Regions from separate parts of the Homo sapiens genome. Here all the other regions are linked to region 1. The links come from fine-mapping of genetic effects on gene expression. A gene starts in region 1. Each other region holds a variant in brackets. All regions are shown on one strand. Distances are between the middles of the regions. Region 1 holds the start of ZNF461 (zinc finger protein 461). Region 2 overlaps ZNF461 (zinc finger protein 461). Region 3 overlaps ZNF850 (zinc finger protein 850).

Region 1 (2,766 bases):
TGCTTAAAACCCGAAGGCGGAGGTTGCAGTGAGCCGAGATCGCGCCACCGCACTCCAGCCACGGTGAAAGAGAGAAACTTCGTCTCAAAAAAAAAAAAAAAAAAAGGAAGTTGCAGAACAATGTGTATTGTGGCCAAATCTCAGAAAAAAAAAATCAAACACATAGGTACATAAGCATACTACATATGTGGTGTTTTTCTGAGGCTGTAATGATAAATGCGGGGTAGCAATGTGATTTTCGCTTGTGTTGTGTGTGTAAATCTACAGCTAACTCCTCAAGTAGTCAGGAAAGGATGAGAGATGGATGAATGACAGATCTCTGGAGTGGGGCGTCCTGAGCCTTAGATGTGTGCACAGGAGCGGGGTGAGGTGAATGTGCGTGTGTCTGTGTGTGAGAGACCAGAGTTGACTGAGAGGAGTGGAAGCTCTCTGCCTGATCGTGTGAGCCTGAGGATAACGTGAATGTTTTTTTGTTTTTTTTTTTTTGAGACAGTTTCGTTTCACTCTTGTTGCCCAGGTTGGAGTGCAATGGCGCGATCTCGGCTCACAGCAACCTCCGCCTCCCGGGTTCAAGCGATTCTCCTGCCTCAGCCTCCCAAGGAGCTGGAATTACAGACATGCACCACCATACCCGGCTAATTTTGTATTTTTAGTAGAGGTGGGGTTTCTCCACGTTGGCCAGGCTGGTATCGAACTCCCGACATCAGGGCATCCACCCGCTTCGGGCTCCCAAAATGCTGGGATTACAGGGGTGAGCCACCGCTCCCGGCCTGTAAATGTGCTTTTTCTTTCACGTAAATAAATGAGATTTACACAAATAGCCATTCACAATCATGGTCACAGTCACCTACAAACCCCATTTACACAAATGATCAGGCACACAATCACACTGTCACTAAAGCACACCCACGCACCAGGTCGCTGTCCCAACAGTAACACACAGCCCAAAGAGAAACCCTACTTCCTCACGCATTCAAAACACACCCACCTAAGGGCTGATCCCGCACTCAGAGGCCTAAAACTATAGACATTCCCTTCCGCGGCACTGGTGAGCCAGGATTTCTTACCTTCAGCATTCTCAGGGAAGGCTCTGGTCCAAGCTCTGATTCGGATTCCAAGCGAAGCCACACGCCCAGCTCTTCCTTCTCCACCGGCCCGGGACATCCTTACCTGCCTCTACCCGGAGACCATTCCTGCGAGGCTCCTACCGGAAGTAGCTGTGGACAGCAGTGTCCTCTGGGAAATGCAGTCCGAGGGGAGAGCGCCTGGGGTGGAGCGGGTGTGTTCCGCCGGGCTCCGGGATGCACTTGCGCAGTTTCACCCGAGGCTGGAGTGACGCCAACCTGTTAATGTTCGTTTTCGGATTCTGGACTTCGGGTTCCGCTGAGGACGGATTTCGGAATAGGCACAGTGGCTGCCCCGAACCCCTCAAGGCGGCCTCCGCGGGCTGTGGCTGAAGATAATTTTCGGCGGGCGCGGACTAACCCGGCTTCCCTTTGTGGAGTTGTGGTGAGAAAGGTGTTTTGTTGTGCGCGTGTCCGAAGGTGACTCCGGAGGAGAAGGTGGATATGAACTGACGGTGAGGGTGTAGCGCGTGAGATTTGTATGTGAAACGATTTAAAAAAAAATTTTTTTTTTGGCCGGGCGCGGTGGCTCACGCCAAGGCGGGCGGATCACCGAGACCAGCCTGACCAACATGGAGAAACCCCGTCTCTACTAAAAATACAAAATTAGCCGGGCGTGATGGCGCATGCCTGTAATCCCAGCTACTCGGGAGGCTGAGGCAGGAGAATCGCTTGAACCCGGGAGGCAGAGGTTGCGGTGAGCCGAGGTCGCGCCATTGCACTCCAGCCTGGGCGACAGAGCAACTCCTTCTCAAACAAACAAACAAAACTGTATGTCATATATTTGACTCCATTTATTTATTTATTTAGAGACAGAGTCTTCTTGCCCTGTTGCCCGGGCAAGAAAAAACAAACAACAACAACAACAAAAAACTGTACGTCATATATTTCACTCAACTTTTTTTTTTTCTTTTTTTTTTTTTGAGACGGAGTCTCGCTGTCGCCCAGGCTGGAGTGCAGTGGCGCAATCTCGGCTCACTGCAAGCTCCGCCTCCCGGGTTCACGCCATTCTCCTGCCTCAGCCTCCCGAGTAGCTGGGACTACAGGCGCCCGCCACCTCGCCCGGCTAATTTTTTGTATTTTTAGTAGAGACGGGGTTTCATCGTGTTAGCCAGGATGGTCTCGATCTCCTGACCTCGTGATTCGCCCGCCTCGGCCTCCCAAAGTGCTGGATTACAGGCGTGAGCCACCGCGCCCGGCCTCTTTTTGAGACAGGGTCTTCATGCCCTGTTGCCCAGGCTGACTGCGGTGGCGCGATCCTAGCTCACTGCAGTCTCCACCTCCTCAGCTCCTCCCGCATCCACCTCCCAAAGTGCTGGGATAGCAGGCGTGAGCCACCGGGTCAGGCCAAAACGATTTATTTTATTTTTATTTTTTTGGTAAAGACAGGGTCTCGCTATGTTGCCCAGGCTGGTGGTCTCGAACTCCTGGGCTCAAGCGATCCTCCCGTCTCAGTGGCCAAAGTATTGGATGACAGGTGTGAGCCACCGCGCTGGGTGGTGAAACGGTTTTGAGGCTTTTTGAGAATGGCTGTTCTATATGCCCGCGTGGGGCTCATGCGGCGAGCGCCGCCACTCCCGCAGTGGCCCCTGTGGGGGTGATACGTGATGTGGCTTAAATGTGAGAGGCCACCTGGACCCGT
Region 2 (2,766 bases), 20 kb before region 1:
AAGAGGGTAGATCTCATGTAAAGTATTTACAACACAAGAAAATTTTTTAAAGTGTTTACATATTTAATAAATACTTTTTTCTATTTCTTAGCATACAGCACCAATGTAAATAAATATTAATTATAGCATCCACAGTTAAATTTCTCAATATTTGTTTTTGAGAAACACTGAGTATTTTTTGAGAAACACTTTATTTCCCACTTTATTGAGGGAAAATTGACAATTAAAATTTATATATTTAAAGGATACAACCTGATGATTTGATATACATTTACATTGTGAAATAATCACCACAGTCAGCTAACTAACCTATTCATCACCTTACATAGTTAACTGTTTTCTTTTTTTTGTGGTAACAAAAAAACATGTACCTTCAGCACGTTTCAAATATACAATACAGTACTGCAAACTAGAGTCATAATATTCTGGAGTCTGAATGTGGATATTCAGAATCCACTCATCTTGCATAACTGAAGCTTTATTTTATTTATTTTTTTGAGATGGAGTCTAGCTCTGTTTCCCAAGCTGGAATGCAGTGGAGCGAACTCAGCTAACTGCAACCTCCACCACCCGGGTTCAAGCGATTTTCCTGACTCAGCCTCTTGAGTAGCTGGGACTACAGGCGTGAGCCACCATGCCCGGCTAATTTTTGTATTTTTAGTAGAGGCAGGGTTTCACTATGTTGGCCAGGCTGGTCTGGAACTTCTGACCTCATGATCCACCCGCCTCAGCCTCCCAAAGTGCTGGGATTACAGGCGTGAGCCACCGTGCCTGGCCAGATTTTGACTATTTTGTTGTTGTTGTTGTTGTTGTTATTGTTGTTGTTGTTATTGTTGTTGATTGAGATGGAGTTTCACTCTTGTTGCCCAGGCTGGAGTGCAATGGTGTGATCTCAGCTCACTGCAACTTCCGACTCCCAGGTTCAAGCTATTCTCCTGCCTCAGCCTCCCCAGTAGCTGGGATTACAGGCGTGTGCCACCACGCCCGGCTAATTTTTTGTATTTTTAGTAGAAACGGAGTTTCACCATGTTACCCAGGCAGGTCTCGAACTCCTGACCTCAGGTGATCCACCCTCCTCTGCCTCCCAAAGTGCTAGGATTAGAGGTATGAGCTGCCACACCTGGTCAAAATTAGACTTTAGGAAAGTTTGTGTCAGCCCCTGTGAGCTTGACAGCTTCCAAATACTTAAAGACTTACCTGATTAGATTCGTGGTGTTATTAACAAGTATGATTTTTTGGCTATTTTATAAGAAAATGTGTCAAAGTCTGGAAGATCTGCATAACTAATTGGAGCAATATTTTCCAAATAACTAATGCATCATGTTACAAAACAGGTAC[C/T]ACAGATAAGAGATCCATTCAAAAAACAAGACAGACTAGTGAGTTTTAATTTAATAGATTAAATTCAGAGGCAGATGTGAGATCCACGTGTCTTCTTTTAATCCAAGCATTAAAGAAACGTGCAAAAAATGAAAAACATTGCCACTTTTCACAATAACTATTTTCGTTTTGTTTTGGAAAATATAACTTATTTATGTTAACATATAGTTTATTATTTTTAAATGAATTAAATGAATATTTCATTTTTCCTAGATTTAATTTCTAAGACAGTTAATATTGAAGGATATAATCTACATATGCAAGAGCTCTTGGGGTTCTCAATAGTTTTTAAGAATATAAAGGCATCCTGAGAATAAAAAGTTTGAGACTGATAACTATATATAGCATTGCATTCTAACACAATTTATTTTCCCATATACCTAATGATGGACATTCTGGTTGCTTCCAATAGTTGACTATTATGATTAGTGCTGCTATGAACATTCCTGTACATTTCTTTTGGTGGAAATAATTACTCTTTTCTGTTAGGTATGCACATCAGAGTGAAATTGCTGCATCATAGGATATAAATTTCTTCAGCTGTAGTTGACATTATGCAACAATTTTCTAATTTAGGCCAGGTGTGGTGGTTCACGCTTGTAATCTCAGCACTTTGGGAGGCTGAGATAGGCATATCACTTGAGGTCAGTAGTTTGAGACCTGCCTGGCCAACATGGTTAAACCCTGTCTCTACTAAAAATACAAAAATTAGCTGGGTGTGGTGGTGGGTGCCTGTAATCCCAGCTACTTGGGAGGCTGAGGCAGAAGAATCGCTTGAACCCAGGAGGTGGAGGTTGCAGTGAGCTGAGATGCGCCAGTGCACTCCAGCCTGGGTGACAGAGCAAGACTCTGTCTCAAAAAAGCAAAAAATAAATAAATAAATAACATTCTAATTTAAAATTCCACTTTCAATTTACTTTCAATTCTTTTGCGTATATACCTAGAAGTAGAATTGCTTGATTATATGGCAATTCTATTTTTAATGTTTTGAGAAATTACCATACTGTTTTCCATAGTGGCTGTATGATATAGCTCGGATATGTGTCCCCTCTAAATCTCATGTGGAATTGTAATCCCCAGTGTTGGAGGTGGGGCCTAGTGGGAAGTAACTGGATTATGGGAGCGGTTTTCTCATAAATGGTTTAGCACCATTCCCTTGGTGCTATCCTCATGATGGTGAGTGAGTTCTCATGATATCTGGTCCTTGAAAGTGTGTGGGCTGGGTGTGGTGGCTCATGCCTGTAATCCCAGCACTCTGGGAGGCCGAGGTGGACAGATTATCTGAGATCAGGAGTTCAAGACCAGGTTGACCATCATGGTGAAACTGTGTCTCTACTAAAAATACAAAATTAGCTGGGTGTGGTGGCAGGCACCTGTAATCCCACCTAC
Region 3 (2,739 bases), 80 kb after region 1:
GACCTGTATCTTATGCTGACCTCATATCTCATCTTGTGACTTAGAATGACTTATCTGTCTAGGAATGCAGTCCAGTAGGTTTCAGTGTTACTTTACACAGCTCCTATTCAAGAAGAAGTTGCTCTGGTTTACACGCCTCTGACGTAACCATGCAGTGAACAAGTCTATTGGCTCCATTTATTCACCAGCATGTGCTCACTTTGTATCTGTGTCATATTTGGATGATCCCAACAATATTTCAACTTTCTCATTGTTGTTATATCTGTTATGGTGGCCTATGATTATCTTAGGCACCACTACTTGTTTTAGGGCATCACAAACTGTGTCCATATAAGACAGCAAACTTAATTGATAAACATGGTGTGTGTTCTGACTACAAACTTAATTGATAAACACTGTGTGTGTTCTGACTGCTCCACTGACTGGCTCACTGCAACATCCGCCTCCCAGGTTCAAGCGATTCTCCAGCCTTGCCTCCTGAATAGCTGGGATTACAGGCATATGCCACCATGTCTGGCTGATTTTGTATTTTTAGTAGAGATGGGGTTTCAACATGTTGGCCAGGCTGGTCTTGAACTCTTAACCTCAGGTGATCCACCCACCTCAGCCTCCGAAAGTGCTGGCATTACAGGCGTGAGCCACCACGCCCGGCTTGGAATTTCTAATATAAATTGCCCACTGGATCCAAAGGAGAAGGTGCGCACAGACTTTAGTTTTGCTTGCTTTCTTTCCAGCAAGGACTTTCTTAGCCACCTTTGCAGTTATGGGCTAAAGTAGACAGGGAAATAGACAGGGAAGGCGAAGCTTAAAACAAAGTCAGTAGTCAAACATGAAAAATATAGTCACACTTATTTATTATAAAAAAACTATTACTAGCCAGGCGTGGTGGCTCACACCTGTAATCCCAGCACTTTGGGAGGCCGAGGTAGGGGGATCACGAGGTCAAAAGTTTGAGACCACCCTGACCAACACAGTGAAACCCCGTCTCTACTAAAAATACAAAAATTAGCCAAGCATGGTGGTGCATGCCTGTAATCTGAGCTACTCAGGAGGCAGAGGCAGGAGAATCACTTGAACCCAGGAGGCAGAGGTTGCAGTGAGCCAAGATAGCACCACTGCACTCCAGCCTGGGCAACAGAGCAAGACTCTGTCTCAAAACAAAACAAACAAACAAAAAATACACAAAAACAACTATTGCCATCAACATTTTATCAATTAGTAATTTTGGCACAGAGAATTTACATAACTAGCCTAATGTCACGTAGGTAGTAAATGGTTGTCTTTTGTCATTG[A/G]CCACATTCTCTAATATGAATTTGTATAACTTCAATAAGCTTTGAATCATGATAGAAAACTCATCTACATTCATTATCAATTTCTTTCAGTATTAAATGTCCTAATTTTGGTGGGTGGATCACCAGGTCAGGAGATCGAGACCATCCTGGCTAACACAGTGAAACCCTGTCTCTACTAAAAATACAAAAACAAAAAAATTAGCCAGGCGTGGTGGCAGGTACCTGTAGTCCCAGCTACTAGGGAGGCTGAGGCAGGAGAATGGCATGAACCCAGGAGGCAGAGCTTGCAGTGAGCCGAGATAGCGCCACTGCACTCCAGCCTGGGCGACAGAGCAAGACTCCGTCTCAAAAAAAAAAAAAAAAGTCGTAATTCTGGAAAAAGTGAATATGAAGTAATACACATCCATTGTATTTGACCCACATATGGAATCTGCTGATGATCCATGACAAATGGCATGAGAACAGTTTCCTACATTAATTATGTTAGGTCATGAATTCTCTGATGTCGAGTAAGCTGTGTAAGCTGTTTAAAGGCCTTCCCACATGTCTTACATTCATAGGGTTTCTCGCCAGTGTGAACACTCTGATGTCGGCTGAGTCCTGAGGCATAGAAAAAGGCTTTCCCACATTCCGGACATTGATAAGTTTTCTCACCAGTATGGATTCGTTTATGTTGACTAAGTTGTGAAGGACATCTAAAGGCCTTCCCACATTCCTTACAATCATAAGGTTTCTCACCAGTGTGAGTTCGCTGATGTCGAATTAGTTCTGAGCCGCAAGTAAAAGATTTCCCACATTCTTTACATTCATAAGGTCTGTCACCGGTATGAATTCTCTGATGTAGAGTAAGGTGTGTACGCTGTCTGAAGGACTTCCCACATGTCTTACATTCATAGGGTTTCTCGCCAGTGTGAATACTGTGATGTTTGGTGAGTCCTGAGAAACGGACAAAGGCTTTTCCACATTCATGACATCGATAAGGTTTCTCACCAGTATGGATTCGTTGATGTTGAGTAAGTTTTGAACGACGTCTAAAGGCCTTGCCACATTCCTTACAATCATAGGGTTTCTCACCAGTGTGAATTCGCCGATGTTGGATTATTGCTGAGCGAAAAGCAAAAGATTTTCCACATTCCTTACAATGATAGGGTTTCTCACCAGTGTGAATTCGCTGATGTTCAATTAGTGTTGAGCGAGAAGTAAAAGATTTCCCACATTCTTTACAACTGTAGCGTTTCTCACCAGTGTGAACTGGCCGATGTTGAATTAGTGCTGAGCGAAGAGTAAAAGATTTCCCACATTCCTTGCAATGATAAGGTTTCTCACCAGTGTGAAGTGGCTGATGTTGAATTAGTGTTGAATGAGAAGTAAAAGATTTCCCACATTCCTTACAATCATAGAGCTTCTCACCAGTGTGTATTTGCTGATGTTGAATTAGTGTTGAGTG

Evidence for each region. PIP is the estimated chance that this variant, and not a neighbour inherited with it, causes the effect. A credible set is the group of variants that fine-mapping cannot tell apart.
Region 2: its variant is the best candidate, but not a certain one, in a credible set for the expression of ZNF461 in whole blood (TOPMed, PIP 0.67).
Region 3: its variant is the best candidate, but not a certain one, in a credible set for the expression of ZNF461 in whole blood (TOPMed, PIP 0.59).

What each region holds. Positions count from the first base shown.
Region 1 is chr19:36,665,623-36,668,388 of GRCh38, forward strand. ZNF461 (zinc finger protein 461) reads right to left here and starts at 1,215. Exons shown (of 6, transcript NM_153257.5): 1 at 1,068-1,215. It also overlaps a transcript of ZNF567 not described here. RefSeq lists an enhancer at 1,392-1,521.
Region 2 is chr19:36,645,306-36,648,071 of GRCh38, forward strand. The region is part of intron 4 of ZNF461 (zinc finger protein 461); the gene reads right to left. Among named protein-coding and RNA genes, the nearest start is that of ZNF461, 20 kb to the right of the region's middle. The variant C/T (reference allele first, on the strand shown) is at 1,339.
Region 3 is chr19:36,745,997-36,748,735 of GRCh38, forward strand. ZNF850 (zinc finger protein 850) reads right to left here. Exons shown (of 5, transcript NM_001193552.2): 5 at 1-2,739. The coding sequence ends at 1,771. Among named protein-coding and RNA genes, the nearest start is that of ZNF850, 25 kb to the right of the region's middle. The variant A/G (reference allele first, on the strand shown) is at 1,293.